Regions from separate parts of the Homo sapiens genome. Here all the other regions are reported to be linked to region 1. The links are microRNA targets in miRTarBase. Many come from high-throughput screens and were not tested one by one. Region 1 holds a microRNA gene; each other region holds the end of a gene's coding sequence.
The links. The annotated mature microRNA hsa-miR-30a-5p reads UGUAAACAUCCUCGACUGGAAG and lies in region 1 at 2,320-2,341, shown strand. An mRNA with a match to its seed (bases 2 to 7 or 8) in the 3' UTR can be bound and repressed. Matches are read on the target gene's strand: a 7mer-m8 pairs with bases 2 to 8, a 7mer-A1 pairs with bases 2 to 7 and ends in A, and an 8mer does both.

Region 1 (4,328 bases):
TGTATTGAACACAATTGGATCTTATTCTGCCATATTTGTTTTTAATTCACGATTTTTAAATGGATTTACTGGTCATATTTCTCAGGTCATGGCAAGATTTTTTAGTCTTAAACTTATTTAGCTCAGTCCTTCTAGATCAATGGTTCTCTGCCCTGAAGGTGTAGCAAAATTGTTTGATAGCTTTTGCAAAATTTACATACCCAGCAGCCTCCCCATCAGCTGAATAAGAATTGCAATGTGGATGTGGCAGAGGCAATCAGGTATGTGGGGTTAGAAGAAGCTGTCCTGGTCATTCTGTTGCCACCCTCTCACTTGGAGAATTGCTGATCCAATGAATTCCTTAACATAACTTTGAAAACACAGCGTTTTGCTCAGAACTTCATGAATAAACATCAAATTTTCACTAAACAAAATAATTAAAGACCATAAGATCTTAGTTATAATACTTCATAAATGGAAAAGCACTTTATTGCCTGTATGTATGTGGGCTCCTCTTTTAGCAAGATATGAGCTAGGTGAAGTCTATGTGAAAGCTAAAGCAGATTTATTCCAGTCAGATGCCAGACAATTTTACCAGTTTAACTGAGACTCATTATTACTTAAACTACATGCTTGTTTTTTTGGTTACTGAGTAGTATAGGTCCCACTTGGATCAGCAATTCTCAAAGTGAGAGGGTGGCAATAGAATTATTTAAGTAATTATTTGTTATTTGAGGTTGTTTGCTTAGTATTTACTTGTCACTGTTTTACATGTTATTTAATAATTTACAGTTATTTAAAAGTGGTAAGATTCCAAGGCAAGTAGGGGACCTGTCACTTTGAGAAAAATTTATGGTGGTAAAAATATTTTCTTTTTGTAAAGAGTCACTGATATACAATGTCCCCCCAGGGTGTAAGCCTTGGTATTTATCTATTTTAATTAAAGAGTACTCTGCCTGTCTAGTCGTGGCTAACTTAAAAGAAGTGGGTATCTTGGTGAGAAGTTCACAAGGTTGGTAGCCATAGCTGAGTTTGGTGGATTGACTCAAGCTCTAGTCAGCAGTGGTATATGAATGCCAAGTACTAAGAATTTCTGGAATGTAGAATTGCACAGCACTGATAAAGTTTGCTTTGTTCCCCTGTGTGACTTGACCCATTGAGAAAACTGGTTCCCTAGGAAGTTTTAATAGTTCAAAGTCCTTAGTTAATAAAGAAAAAGGCCACAACATAATTCAGCTTGTTTTCACCTGCTGACTCAAAGATTAACTTTTTTAACCTTAATGGGATAGAGTTACCCTTTGCTTTGAGAAAGTAATTTATGGAGTTCTTCATATTTGTTAGTTTCAGTAAACATGATGCTTTTTGTGTGGATTTTATTTTTGTTTCGGGTTTGAGATCACAAACTACTAAGACTTACACAATTTAAGAACCTTACGGTAACTTCATCTAAAAACAAATCTCAGGGAAAGGCACACCCACTTTTCTGTATCAACTTAATCTTTCACTAGATTCAGAATGGTTTTGAATTACTTCAGGAAAGTAGTGACTGATAGAGCTTAACCTTCAGTTTTCCTCATTTATTTTCATAAGAGAATGGGAGTGGAATTCAAAACATTCAAATTTGGAGTTAATGTGCGTCACTGTTGTGAGTGATAGGTTCTGTGTTTTTCCAGTGGGAAACTTTGATCCACATACTGATATATGCCTGTGTTATACCTCGTTATTCTTTTCTGTTTTTCTCCTGATTGTTGCTTACTCTTTCAAAAATCAGCTGACTGTACAAGTCCTCTCTGGGAGCAGACTTTAGAGCAAAAGTGATCTATAAAAGCAGCATGTAAGTCTTTTTTTTTTTTGTCAGAGTTTATAACTTTCCAAGTAGACCTTTTATATTTTCACGGTAGTCTAAGTTCACTCAACTGCAGTATTTGATGTTAAATGTACGCTTTACGCTGTTAAGATAATTTAGTTTCTGTGTTTGGTCACTTTTGCTTAAAGGATTGTAATTACATAATGCATGTTGAAATCATATTAAGTAACCTGGCCACTTGCCTATTTACTTCTTGTGGCTAACAATAATGAATGAAACCATTTATATATGTTGTTTTAGTATATCACAAAATTTTATAGAAACTAGAAGCTCGGTGATGAATAATAGACATCCATGAGCCTTCTTATTTGTTTTGAATTTGAGACATTTTCTAGAATATTGCTGTTTGAATGAGGCTTCAGTACTTTACAGAATCGTTGCCTGCACATCTTGGAAACACTTGCTGGGATTACTTCTTCAGGTTAACCCAACAGAAGGCTAAAGAAGGTATATTGCTGTTGACAGTGAGCGACTGTAAACATCCTCGACTGGAAGCTGTGAAGCCACAGATGGGCTTTCAGTCGGATGTTTGCAGCTGCCTACTGCCTCGGACTTCAAGGGGCTACTTTAGGAGCAATTATCTTGTTTACTAAAACTGAATACCTTGCTATCTCTTTGATACATTTTTACAAAGCTGAATTAAAATGGTATAAATTAAATCACTTTAAAACCATGTCTGTACATTTTTAGAGGGCTTCAGCAGGGCATTGAGGAGGTGCTCTGTGTATGCATAGAATTTGCAATATCAAAAAGAAAGTATTCGTAAGAGAAATGAGGAAATGTGTTACAGTATTTTTATTTTTTTTAAAAGCGTAGTAGGGCAATATTTCCCAGAAAAATCTATGAAGTGATTTGTTTTGTCCTGCCCTTTCTGCAGTTTCAAAATAGGTGTTTTTTAGACCCATTCACAAAAAAAAAATCCATTAATGAAACCACAATTATTTGGGGGAAAAAAGTAAGATGAAGGGTTAGTTATTTTCACATTACTTGGATTAAACCCCTTTTATTTCCTTATAGGCTTAGTGTTTAAGTAATAAAGTAGCAGCTCTCAGCTTAATAAAGTGTCTAAAACAAACAAATACTGATTCAACTAACTCTATTATTTGAAAAACCTATTCTTGTTTCAGATGATTAGAATAGTATTTTAGGAATTTGTGGATACTGTTTCCATTTGGTTGAACTTTTAACTTAGCTTTATGCAATAACTCATATCTCTTAAAAATAATAAATACATCAAATTCTATCCTAAATATATGAAGACAATTTTAAGATTCAGAATCCTGTAGAAGATTTCTGTGATGGACATAATTTCTAATTTTCCTTTTTTGTAAATGCGTATTTTTCTTATGGCGGATATTTTTAATATTATACACTTAAATAGAAATATTTAAGTGTATAAGAGAAATATTTAAGTGTATAATAGAAATATTAAGGATACACTTATATAGAAACTAGACACTTTAAAAAGATATGAAAGTGATATCTTTTGTCCTCTAAAACACAGTATTTTATAAATATATAGTGTTTCCATTAATGTAAAAGAGTTTCTTTTCCCTGTTTAATACCCATTGATGATGATGATAAAGAAGTGATACTAAAACAGTATGATCATACCACTATTTAAAATAGTAGCATTTCTTCTAATACCTGGGATGGAGAGAAATATGTGTTAGAAATGTCTTTAAGTTTCCCTCATACATAAAGCTATCAAAACTCTATTAGTCATGCTGGGCCATGAGAGGTTCATCAACTGCCACTGAAATGCAAGGGGCTTGGAGAGGCCTCTGCCAGGCCCTGGGTCTGGAACTGAGAATGTGGTCTATTTTAATTGGTAAGCTGAAAACCCCTGGAGCAAATAACTCGGCTGTTTTTCTGGGGTCACCCGACCGTATTTCCTAGGTAAATGACTATAGGTTTGAAGAAATGGTTAAACTTTTCCTAAATCTTTGACCTTCACTTTCTTTAGGTTCTCTTCCTATGTTATTTTATATCCTCTTCCTTACCTTACTGCCCCTAAATTTTCCATTTTTCATTTTTATCTGTTCATTTTGTTCATGTAAATAATTAGTTATGGGAACTTTTTAATTTGTAAAAATTACAGCATTTTTAATTATTTTTAAATCAACAAATACAAACCTCCATAAGCCATTCCGGGTAGTTTCAAAATTAATACCTAGTATTTCTTATGTCTTGTGCCCCACATTTCCACAGTAATAATGTAAACTACTATTTTAAAGTAACATCAACAGTCCAGGCACGGTGGCTTACGCCTGTAATCCCAGCACTTTAGGAGGCTGAGGCAGGTGGATCACTTGAGGTCAGGAGTTTGAGATCAATCTGAACAACATGGTGAAACCCTGTCTCCATTAAAAATACAAAAATTAGCTGGGTGTGGTGGCACGTGCCTGTAATCCCAGCTACTGAGGTGGCTGAGAATTGCTTGAACCTGAGAGGGAGAGGTTGTGGTGAGCCAAAATGGTGC
Region 2 (3,000 bases), not on the chromosome of region 1:
TAAAATAAGTAAAAGGTTGAGAATTAAGAATGTTGTTTTCTCATTAAAAAGGAACAAACTTACTACTGGGTCTACATTTTAATAATCGAAACAAGAAGACAGGAATGTGGGCTTTCACTTAATACACTTGCAGAAAATCTAGTCCAGAAGCTTTTTGAAAACAGAGACTTATCATTGCTCTTAGTGACTACAAACTGGCAGGCATTCAATATATATTAATGCTTGTCAGTGAATGAAAGTATCAATTAAAAGCTATGGTCAGTTGCTGCCAATTAGTACTATTTAATTCTCAGATATATTCAAAGAAAAGCAAACTACCCCACTGATTCTTTTAGAATACATGCATTTTAAAAAATTCATATTTTTGTGTTGCCTCTTGGATCTTCCCTTTTCATTCCTAGACCACCTGTTCAGAACATTGCTTACAGAAATATTTAAAAATGACACAAAGAATATCCATGAGATTTCAGGAATATCATATTCAGCAGAATGAAGCCCTGGCAGCCAAAGCAGGACTCCTTGGCCAACCACGATAGAGAAGTCCTGATGGATGAACTTTTGATGAAAGATTGCCAACAGCTGCTTTATTGGAAATGAGGACTCATCTGATAGAATCCCCTGAAAGCAGTAGCCACCATGTTCAACCATCTGTCATGACTGTTTGGCAAATGGAAACCGCTGGAGAAACAAAATTGCTATTTACCAGGAATAATCACAATAGAAGGTCTTATTGTTCAGTGAAATAATAAGATGCAACATTTGTTGAGGCCTTATGATTCAGCAGCTTGGTCACTTGATTAGAAAAATAAACCATTGTTTCTTCAATTGTGACTGTTAATTTTAAAGCAACTTATGTGTTCGATCATGTATGAGATAGAAAAATTTTTATTACTCAAAGTAAAATAAATGGAAATATCACTGAGCAGTTGTTTATACTGTATGGTACCATAGTATTCTCACTGGACTGTGGATACGTTGAAATGTTTTTCAATCAGGATCATCCTCCAAGCAGTCCTGTTCATTCATGTCTGCCTCAAATTGCTGGTGAATACATAAAATAGTTACTTGCTAATCATTTCAATGCATGATCCTTTTCTTGCCTCCCTTGTGTCAGGGTGGGCATTACATATACTTTTCTTTTTTTTTTTTTTTGAGACGGAGTTTTGCTTTCGTCACCCAGGATGGAGTGCAACGGCACAATCTCAGCTCACTGCAACCTCCACCTCCCCAGTTCAAGCAATTCTGCTGCTTCAGCCTCCCAAGTAGCTGGGATTACAGGTGTGTGCCACCATGCCCGGCTAACTTTTGTATTTTTAGTAGAAATGGGGTTTCACCACATTGGCCAGGCTGGTCTCGAACTTCTGACCTCAGGTGATCCGCCTGCCTCAGCCTCCCAAAGTGCTAGGATTACAGGCGTGAGCCACCGCGCCTGGCCACATATCTTACCTACATTTTCGTATATCTTCAGGAAACAATCCCATCTGCCCTAGTTTGGGAATGTTTAAGAGTTGACTGTTATACTGTAATGGAGTTCATGTTTGTGTTTTGTTCAAAAGCTGACAGTCAAATATGATAGATTCCAAGGCTTGCCAATGATAAAAAGGGAACCAAAGTTAATGTCTTATGCCTAATGAATCCTGAAATGAATCCAAGCATTTGCAGGAAATTCTAGTTGATGCATACATACACCAAGCAGTTTAGTAAAATGGAAGTGGACTAAAACTTACTAATCAACTGGCTTATGAATGGATTTCATTTGATACCATTTTAAACCTATATTTAAGAGAATGCTAATTAGCCTGTATGTTTAAATTTACCAAAGTGATTTCTATGTTTTGTATGTTAATGGAAGTAGAAGCAATGTTCTGCTTTAAAATTGAACTGTTGAAATACGGATAATACAAGAAAATATACAATTTATTATAGTCAAAGGAAAATGAAGAATAGGCTTGCTTCGTGTTAAAGCAGCCAAAAATTCAGAGATTTCACTTATTTAAGATTTTGGGCAATTCACACACATACTTTGATATTTCTGTGTAGTCAAGCATAACATAGCTATTTACTGTGTACATTTCACAAAGATAATTAAATATGTGCTCACCTGGCAAATAAGGGGAATTTTGTGCAACAGCATCTCAAATACCTTGGGAGGGAGAGTGTGTTTGAAAACTTTCAGAAGTTCCCGTGGTTGCTCGCACACTAAAAGGGCATTGCCGAGGTGTTGAATCCCCATTCTGTGCTCTCCTGAAACAGAATGACAAGTTTTGAGCAAAATTTTGAAGTTCTTTAAAACAGACATTCTACAAATCCAAGAAAGCAACAAGCATTAAAAATTAAAAGCATATCCAACTAAAGACTACTTAGACAAGTCTTGTGAAGAGTAGAGTACAAATATGAGGAAGATGTTGAGCTTCACAGTGGTGAAGCGGCAATATTAATTTTGAGCCAAATTACAGCAAGTATACTCTTACTGTTTAGAAGTATACTCTTGCATTGGAAATGCTCGTGTTCTATAATTTGGGTATGGAGGGAAGAGGATACTGAGGTTTTTTGTAAGCAGTTGTCTGCTTTTATTAATATCTGATAGGTTATCTTTACATGTGTGATTGAAAAAATATTATAGATGAAACATCTGATGTTCCAGCTAAATGGAACTTAAAAAAAATAGATTTCACTATCAAAGAGTTGAAACAAGATGTAGTGTAACATGAATTACATACCCCAGGGAAAAAAATAAGAGATTTATGAACTCTGATTTCTAAGCACAGTTTTAAAGTGAGTTTTAGGATGATTGGCTTTGAAGTAACAACAAATGAAAATATGTGAAGAGTGAAAATTAATCATAGGATTTCTGTTTAAGTTAGAACATGGAATGACTTTAATCCCACTCCCTTGTTTTACTTTAAGGAAACAGGCAAAGATCAGTGAAATGATGTATAGTTTCAATGCTGATTAATGCTAGCCTTAGGAATATAATCTAATTTTCTGACCCTTGAGACT
Region 3 (3,000 bases), not on the chromosome of region 1:
CTGAGACAGAGGCCTGGATTTGAATCCTGGCTCTTGCCTTTATATGACCTTGGGCAAGTTCTTTATCCTTTCTGTGCCACAGTTTTCTCCTGTGCAAAATAGGGATTAAAATGGCATGTATCTTTCAGGATATCACAAGGAATATGTAAGATATTATACATCAAGTGGTTAGAACGCTGGCTGGCACATTGTAAGTACTCAGCATTTGCTGGCTTTGTAGAAAATAAGGCTTTGAGAAGCATCTAATATTGTGCCTGGTACCTACTTGGCAACCCATAAGTGGTAACTCTTACGATTAACAAGGGACAGCTCCCATCCTTAGAGTGATACTGCCTCAGGGTAATCTGTCCCTCGGTGGATTGAAGGAGCAGTGGACCCTGACCCTGCTTAGCAATAAACAACATTTTATGTAACTCAATCAAAGTACAAAGGGTCTTCATGTACTCTGCCCATTTCATGACCCATATGAGATTTAAAAAGCCACAAAAACTGTGTGGCTCCAAAAGACATTTCTGTACAAAGACCTGAGTTCAAATGGCCAACCTGCCACTAATACACTCTGTGGCTGTGAGAAGCCCCTTCCTCTCCCCAGGCTGGCTCCTGGGCCTACAGCTGAAAGGATTTGCCTGCCCAGGCTTTATGGCCCTTGCAGCTTTGATAGTCCTGCATTCTCTTTTGCAGGTCAGAGGAGAGACAGGCCTCGACCACGCAGTTTCAGTGACTCAGGCTTCATGGGAGAGTAAGAATGTGAAAAATCCATCTCTCCCTAATTGAAATCTCAAGATACATATTTCCTGTCAGTCCTGGAAAGAAATAGCAGAAAATCCATCATCCACACATAAATTGTGTCAATTCCCTTGTCCTGTACAAGTTACTTTGGGGCACAGGGCCCATCAGTCACAGATGGGACTTCCCATCTCACAGCTGTGTGACCATCAGGAGTACACTGCTGCCTTCCACCCCTGCTGTCCCTAACCATGCTGGCACATCAAAAGGCCTGTCCTGAGGCTCAGCAGGTCCCAGGCCAGGCAGGCATGAACACAAGACCCAAAGAAGGGGAGATGCTCCCCAGAACATGTTTCCTTTACAAGTCAAGACCCCTTGGAGATTTAACAACCTACAAAACAACTGCCTACAGGTAAAATAAGAGCTTCCAGGAATTCTAAAAAGGAAACACTCCTTTCACCAGCATCAAAACACTAATATCTTCTCAGGCAGATGAAACCAGGGGTCTGGAGGCCAAAGTGGAGGCGCCAGGTGTCCACTGACACCTACTACAAAGATTTTCCTTGCTTTTCTCTCAGCCACAGGGGGCTCCTGGGCCCTCCAACACTTTTTCCCACCGTGAACCTGACTCCTGATGGTCTGCTTCCTAGGCTCTGAGTACTGAAGTTTCCCCTCAGTCCCAACCACCTGCCCCAGGGAGGACCTAGAGCAGCAGACCCCCTTGCTTTGACCTAGCCCCTCCCTCCATAGCACTGACACTGGTTTGGCTGAGGCCAGCTCAGTGATGTGATCCAGAGAAACCTGGGGCTCCTACTGAAATTACAGCAAACCCAGGGGTGCAGGACAATGTGTCAGTAAAGTAACCTAGTGCCCTGGAGTTGGGCTAGAGCAATCCCAGATTACTGTGGGGTTAACTTACACTGGATAAATGCCAACTCTCTCTCCTCTTCCCCCAGGATGGGAAAGGCAGGCAGCTTGACAAGGACAAGCGTTGACCAGCAATGCTAGCAGAAAAAACCACTTTCTAGACCTGGAGGAGATACGTAGAGGCCATATTTCCTGTAGACAAGCCAACGGGAATTATTTTTGCTTCTTTTTAATGTAAACAGAATACACAATCACATTAAAAACCCCAACATGACACAGAATACACACAGAATTATATATAGATATTTACAGGCCCTCGAAAGCCAAAAGGAAAAATGGCCCCTCTGGTTAAGGGAAGCTTCTCTTCCTACCTTGTCCCTGTCCAAAATCAAAGTGCTGAGGCAGCTGAAGGAGCCTCCGCAATTACTTCTGGATATAATGTAGCAGGAGGCTGGAATAACATCAGAAACACCCCACCCCCACCCCAGAGCACAACCAAGATACCGACTTTCTGGCCCTGGCCCTAATCCTAAACTCTCCTCCTTTGCAAGCTGACAAAGCAAGGATTTGTATGTCTCGAGAGGCATCAGCATGACCCCTGAAATTCAGATGCACGGCGGAGGGGTTCCCATCCCATTCCAGCTTTCCCAGCCTTGGGCTGATTGTGAAATGAGCCAAAACCAACCATATCCAAGAGAGGAGGGTGGGGGAAGTAAAGGAAGAATGGATCTCAGGCAGAGATGACTGCTTCGGAGCAGGACCCTGGGAACCAAGGGGAGGTCAAGCTGGGCTCACCCAAGCCCAGGACAGACTGCGGAAGACACAGTGGGGCTGTGCTGCCACCTGGTGGGGGATGGGAGCACTGCAGCAATGAACTAGGACAGTCCCACAGGTACCTTCAGATCATCTTTTCTCTCCATTTCAGTCCCCTAACCAACAGCCTCACTGCAGCAGCTCTTCCCAGGAAATGGGCTTGGAGAAGACCTCCCTTTCTAACCAGAGGTCATAGTTCATCTGAAAGTCCTCAGGGAGGTCCACCCGTTGGCCCAGGACACTCTGCAGGCAGTTGTCCACTGGCAGGAAGTCAGGGTTGCTGTGGGCCCGGTCATAGCGCCGGGCGTTGAAGCGTTCAATGTTGGCACGAAGGGCACACTCCTCTGCCTGGAAGTCCCAAGGCCGGGCATCAAGATCTGAGACAAAGCAGGAAGAAACACCGTTAGGAGCCATGCCCTGTAGCAGCTCCCCATGGATTCACTGGCCAGGAATATTGAGTGTCAACTAAGAGCAGGATACCTCCGAGCTCATCCTCAGAAAGATGCCAGGAATTCCTTCCTAGATCCAAAGGAGAGTCAAGTACAAGCAGAAAAGCCAGAGGTACTGAGAAAGAGGCTTATACTGTAGGGATTA
Region 4 (3,000 bases), not on the chromosome of region 1:
TGACCATAAAAGGAAAATGTGGTAAGTTGGTCTTTTTAAAAATTAAAAGATTTTGCTCTGTGAAAGAGTATGTGAAAAAAATGAAAGAACAAGTTGCCAACTGGGAAAAAAATGTTTGCAAACCAAATATCTGAACTCTGAAGGACTCCAAAACTTAACATTAAAAATGAAACTAAACAATTTTAAAATGAGTAAATGACATGAACAGACATTTCACCAAACAGGATATACAGGTGGCAAACAAGCACATGAAAAGATGTTTAACATCATTAGCTATTAGAGAAATGCAAATTAAAACTACCATGAGATACTACTACACACCCAACAGAATGGCTAAAATAAAATATAGTAGGCCAGGCAGGGCAGCTCACACTTGTAATTCCAGCAGCACTTTGGAAGGCCGAGGCGGGCGGGTCACTTGAGCCCAGGAGTTCGAGACCAGCCTGGGCAACATGGTGAAACCTCATCTCTACAAAAATTAGCTGGGCATTATGGCACACAACTGTATTCCCAGCTACTTGGGAAACTGAGGCAGGAGGATTGCTTGAGCCTGGGAGGTGGAGGTTGCAGTAAGCCAAGATTGTGCCACTGCATTCCAGCCTGGGTGACAGTGAGACCCTGTCTCAAAAAAAAAAAAAAAAAGGCAAACCAAATGCTGGCAAGGATGTGGAAAAATTGAATCACTCCAACATTGCTGTTGGGAATGTAAAATGTGACCATAACTCTAGAAAATTTGGTACCTTCTAATAAAACATGCATCTATCATGTGACTCAGCAATTACACTGCTAGAGATCTGAGAGAAATGAAAATGTTTTATGTTGACGTGAAAACATGTACAAATATGTTCATTGCAGCTGTATCTGTAATAGCCAAACACTGGATCAGCCCAGATGTCCTTCAACAGGTAAAACAAAACATATCATGGAAAGTACTCAGCAATAAAAAGGAATGAATAAAAAGAATGAAACATTGATATATGTGGCAACTTGAAGGAATACCGGGGAATTACACTGAGTGAAAAGCCAATCCTGAAAGGTTACATACTGTATGATTCCATTTATATAATATTCTTGAAATGACAAAATCATAGAAAAATGGAGGACAGATTAGTGGTTGCCAGGGGTTACGGATGGTGGTGTGCAGAAGACAGGGGGGAGGTGGGTGTGATTATAAAAGGGCAACACGAGAGATCTTGTGGTGTTGAAACTGTTCAATATCTTATAGGATACATAAACTTACCTAGGTGATTACACTATAGAATTATAAATTATATAGAATACATCATACAAATATTCATTAATACAGTGAAACTAGGAAGTCTGAATATGATTGGTGGATTTGGAGTCTGTATATGATTGGTGGATTATATCAAAGTCAATGTCCTGGTTGTTATACTATAGTTTTACAAAATCTTACTTTTAGGAGAAACAGGGTAAGGTATACAGAATTATTTGAATTATCTCTGAATTACTTTTTTAGAACTACATGTGAATCTATATTCATCTCAATAAAATTTTCATTAAAAAAATCTGAATGGGCTGGGCACAGTGGCTCACACCTCTAATCCCAGCACTTTGGGAGGCTGAGGTGGGTGGATCACTTGAGGACAGGAGTTCGAGAGCAGCCCGGCCAACGTGGTGAACCCCGTCTCTACTAAAAATACCAGAATTAGTCAGGCATTGTGGTGCATGCCTGTACTCCCAGCTACTTGGGAGGCTGAGGCAGGAGAATCACTTGAACCCAGGAGGCAGAGGTTGAAGTGGGCCGAGATCACACCACTGCACTCCAGCCTGGGCGACAGTGAGACCCTGTTTCAAAAAAAAAAAAAAGAATCTGAATGCATACTACATGCCATTACATGAATAATGTCTGTTTCACAGATGAAGGAACTGAAGTTGAGTGGTTGGTAAACTGACTTAAGATTACAGAGCTAGTAAGAAGATGGGCTGGCATTCAAACTGGTTTGTTCAGCTGATAACTTAGAATATAATATAAATGACTTAAGCGTCCAATTAGTTGACTGAAGAAGTAAAAAAATAACTATTAATATATAACTTCAAAGGGTGAGCAACATTGTGCTTTCTGCTAATATGATATAAATTTAAAAACTTTTGCTTTAGAATGGTATGCTAGGACTTATGTACTAGAGCATAGTATCAAGAGTACTATAAATATAAGCGATTTCTTCGTCTAATAATTATAAATTTGAATTATAAGACTATCAACAGAAAACAAACACCAAAAAATACCCATACCTACTTAATGTTGGCTTCAGATTAAAATAAAAATATCCTAAGCCAAGTTTCAGCAAAATAATTTTATTTCCTAACATATGGTAACATATACATCCAATATGTGCTCCCCTTGCACATCTATTCACAAGTGACTTCCAAATGACAACTGCTTTGATATTTAAGCATGTGCTAAAAGTTATCTTAGTTGAGATATGAAAAATGCTTTAGATGGATAACATTCTGAGTATATTGGATTAGTCACAGCAGAATTTACTTTAGTTAGATGAGTTCTACAAATTTAAAGCTTTGAAAAGCTACTACTTTTACTTCTAATACATCCAGATGAACACGATGTAGCAATATCAGCTTGTATTCCAGAGAAATCTCATTAGTTTTTCTGGTGATGGAACCACTTATCCACTGTATTCAGAGAAAAGAAAAACAAATTAGAATTCCTGTTGAGAATCAAAAATACACCTAACATATAACAAAGACTAATATACTTGCTTTAATGAATCCTACTATGAATTACCTGAAAATTAACAGGCATACATACAAAATTTCTCTACAGCAAATGCAGGTGTTTTCTTTTGGGCTTCCTTACACTTCATGCTAATTGCATAGTGTGATTTTCAAACTTTTTTTTTTAATTTCGAGACAGGGTCTCACTCTCTTGCCCAGATTGCAGTGCAGTGGCAGCAATCATGGCTCACTGCAACCTCCATCTTCCAGGTTCAAGCAATTCTCGTGCCTCAGTCTCCCCAG
Region 5 (3,000 bases), not on the chromosome of region 1:
GGAGCTGAGGCTGCAAGGAAATCTTGGCTCCAGCGCTTCCTGTTCCTGAGAGGGTGAGTGAAAAGTGGGCTTGTGTTGATGGGCTGTCCTCTTTCTCCACTTAGGTGGGAGCTGCTATTTCTATGACGTACATCACAAGCAAACCCATCGTCTTTGTGGGCACCGGCCAGACCTACTGTGACCTACGCAGCCTCAATGCCAAGGCTGTGGTGGCTGCCCTCATGAAGGCTTAACGTGGCTCTTGCCCAATACCAAATCGCCGCTTTCCCCACAAGCCCTTCTTCCTGTATCAAGAATGTGCTTTAGAGTATGTGAGCAACCTGTCTTCAGTGTAGTACAAAGGCAGAGTGAGGGGGCTTGTGGCTCCTTCCAACCCCACTCCCCGTTCAGCACAGCCGCCATCTGCAAGGAAGGCCTAATCATGTTACAATCACTGCCCACTGACCCTCTCCCAGCGGGCCTCCCCCTTCCTACTCAGGCACCCCCTTCACTCTGCCTACAGACTCAGTCTTATTACAGCTTTGACCAATGGTTGGAACCCAACACCAGAGCTTTGCTAATAATTAGTGTGGTCAAGAGCCGTCTGAGCCTAATGAGTCCCAGCTGCATTAGGTTAAGAGACTCTTCCAGAGCCAGCGCCAGGTCTTGAATGGCACCTCTCCCTAGGATACACAGCCTGCAGGTCCCCAGGACCTGGATGACACCCGCCTCACTGTGGCAGTGTATTGCCTGTTAATTGCTGCTAATTCTAATTCTGATGATGACTCCTACTCCATTGTTTACCCCAAAGCATCAGCTAGGCTGGAGTGATTTGTTACAAATGAGCAAAAGATGAGTCCTTGCTTCCCTCAGAAATAAAAGGAGCTCAGCTGCAGCGTTGCATTGGGCTTCTTGGCCTCCCAACTCTTCCCACTCCCAGAATCCAGAAGTAAGCTCTGCATGTTCCCCTTCCTGGGAGGAAACCAATTGTCAGAAGGATGTATGATGACCCCCTCCCCTCCCATCCTTCACCTCCTAAGCAGTCCTGGCTTTTCCTCATCACTCCCCTCTACAGTGCCTGGTAGACAAGTGCTACATTGAAGAACACAAACCTCTTGTTAAGACTTGTCCTGTAGCTTGATATTACAGATGTGCTATTAGTGCAATAAGGTGAAGGCTGTCTGCCCAGAGAAATAAGTAATTTATATAAGAAAATAAATTTCATAAATAAATTGCCTTTTAGGTCTTGGAGTTCTTTTATACAGGATTCAAAACTAAAATTCCACAACACACTTAACTGTAGTTCTAGGACATATGTATGGTCAGGACAACAGAGCAGAAGTTGATAATGCTCCGAGGAATCAGGTAAGTAAACGGTTGTCCTGAGAATGAGATCACTCCACCCCAAGGAGAAAGATCGGAACCTTTAAACTTTGGGTTATTAAAATTAAGCTTATTAGTACCTTGATGCAAGTTAGAGTTTCTTACAATGACTCTAAAAGTAGAGCCAGGGTCCTGGCAAGTAAATGAACAAGCTTTTAATACAGCTTAGTTATGTAAAATACTGTACACTGTAAAAGATCTAGAAAACTAGAGCTTCAAGTCATGTTTTAAAAAAGCCATTAAGCTTAATTGAAAAACCAAGTATAGAGTACAAAACTGCAACAAGAGCCACAGTGATTCCATGGCATCCAGACCCCGAGTCCTTCATGCAGAGCTGCAGCCGGTCAGTGGAAGTATCACATTGGTGTGCTGTGTGGACACAAGCATGTCTAGCCTGGGGAGTGGGTTGGGAGCTGCATTTGGGTCCTGCTGTCGCTTTTATTCTTGAACTTGAACAGGCGGCAGAATATCAAGAACCAGGTGGTATGAAGGATTACGCTGCAACATTCCCCCCTCTTCTACCCCGCCCTTCAACCTCTGGCTATTGTTACTTTCTGGGAATTGTGTTGGGTTCTTGTAAGTTTACTTGTTAAACACTGTCTGTAGTAGGGCCTTACAGCTTGGTCTAAACGGTGGTGATTTCTCTAGCTCGCTCATGTACTACAGCCTGTAGGGAGAAAGAAAAGAGAACAAAATGAAGTTTCACAAAACAGGTTTATACATTGGAAGCTGCAGATACTTAAGTCAATCCTAACCCTTCAGAAGGCAAGACAGGAGATTCTAGGAATCTTGTAATTTATTTAAAATTTTATTTACTTTTTAGAGACAAGGTCTTTGTCACCCAGGCTCAAATGCAGTGGCACAATCAGCTCACTGGGCTCAAGCAATCCTCCTACCTCAGCCAGTAGCCGGGACTATAGGCACACAGCACCAGACCTAGCAATTTAAAAAAATTTTTTTTGTAGAAACAGCATCTTGCTATGTTGCTCAGGCTGGTCTCAAACTCCTGGGCTCAAGCAATCCTCCTGCCTCAGCCTCCCAAAGTGCTGGGATTACAGGCCTGAGCCACCACACCCAGCAGTACTTTTTTCAAAAAATTAACTGATCACTGCACTAGATTGTAATAGACTTGATAGGAAAAGATAGAATCCTTAATGGGTAGGAGAGGAAAATCATTCTCTACAGTGTTTTTTAAAATTTGGCAATGTGAGGTCCAAAGTAACATTCTCTATATTCTTAACCAAGGACCTAGAAAGACTTTCTGCTACAGAGTGATAAATAGTAGAATAGGAAACAGTATACCTCTTATTTCACTGTGTGCTGCAGATGAGCCATTTAGCTGACCTTCTCTCACCATCCCTGCTAAATAGAGGACATCAGCATCAGACATTAGACTGAAAAGCTAAAACTATTAATAGCAAAAAGAAAACTAAAGGGAGATGAGGACATATGGTACGACTGAAAAGGAATGGGCATTTAGAAATGAAACAATCATTGAGAAGATAAGGAGGCAGAGAGGATAAACTGGAGTAGTCTTTAGACTTGCATTACCTAACAGGGAAGCAGTGAGTTTCCACAGTGCACTACGATTGCTTGTAGACAAAACATTTTACATTTTACATTTTACATTTCACATAC

Region 2: the mRNA of TIMM9 is a reported target of hsa-miR-30a-5p. The part of its 3' UTR that is shown has no 7-base or 8-base seed match.
Region 3: miRTarBase lists STRIP1 as a target of hsa-miR-30a-5p. Seed matches in the 3' UTR shown: 8mer at 1,827-1,834.
Region 4: the mRNA of PPA1 is a reported target of hsa-miR-30a-5p. The part of its 3' UTR that is shown has no 7-base or 8-base seed match.
Region 5: the mRNA of SRPRA is a reported target of hsa-miR-30a-5p. Seed matches in the 3' UTR shown: 7mer-m8 at 777-783.

Annotation. Positions count from the first base shown.
Region 1 is chr6:71,401,608-71,405,935 of GRCh38, reverse strand. MIR30A (microRNA 30a) reads left to right here and starts at 2,315; the gene lies at 2,315-2,385. RefSeq lists an enhancer at 3,319-3,847.
Region 2 is chr14:58,406,570-58,409,569 of GRCh38, reverse strand. TIMM9 (translocase of inner mitochondrial membrane 9) reads left to right here. Exons shown (of 6, transcript NM_012460.4): 6 at 402-1,075. The coding sequence ends at 536. TOMM20L (translocase of outer mitochondrial membrane 20 like) reads right to left here. Exons shown (of 5, transcript NM_207377.3): 4 at 2,102-2,244; 5 at 868-1,041. The coding sequence ends at 988. Among named protein-coding and RNA genes, the nearest start is that of TOMM20L, 12 kb to the right of the region's middle.
Region 3 is chr1:110,053,448-110,056,447 of GRCh38, reverse strand. It overlaps STRIP1 (striatin interacting protein 1), which reads right to left. Exons shown (of 21, transcript NM_033088.4): 21 at 1,807-2,783. The coding sequence ends at 2,536. Among named protein-coding and RNA genes, the nearest start is that of ALX3, 16 kb to the left of the region's middle.
Region 4 is chr10:70,200,532-70,203,531 of GRCh38, forward strand. PPA1 (inorganic pyrophosphatase 1) reads right to left here. Exons shown (of 11, transcript NM_021129.4): 11 at 2,304-2,655. The coding sequence ends at 2,624. Among named protein-coding and RNA genes, the nearest start is that of PPA1, 31 kb to the right of the region's middle.
Region 5 is chr11:126,261,149-126,264,148 of GRCh38, reverse strand. SRPRA (SRP receptor subunit alpha) reads left to right here. Exons shown (of 14, transcript NM_003139.4): 14 at 105-1,211. The coding sequence ends at 233. It overlaps FAM118B (family with sequence similarity 118 member B), which reads right to left. Exons shown (of 9, transcript NM_024556.4): 8 at 2,665-2,724; 9 at 1,181-2,029. The coding sequence ends at 2,016. Among named protein-coding and RNA genes, the nearest start is that of SRPRA, 6.2 kb to the left of the region's middle.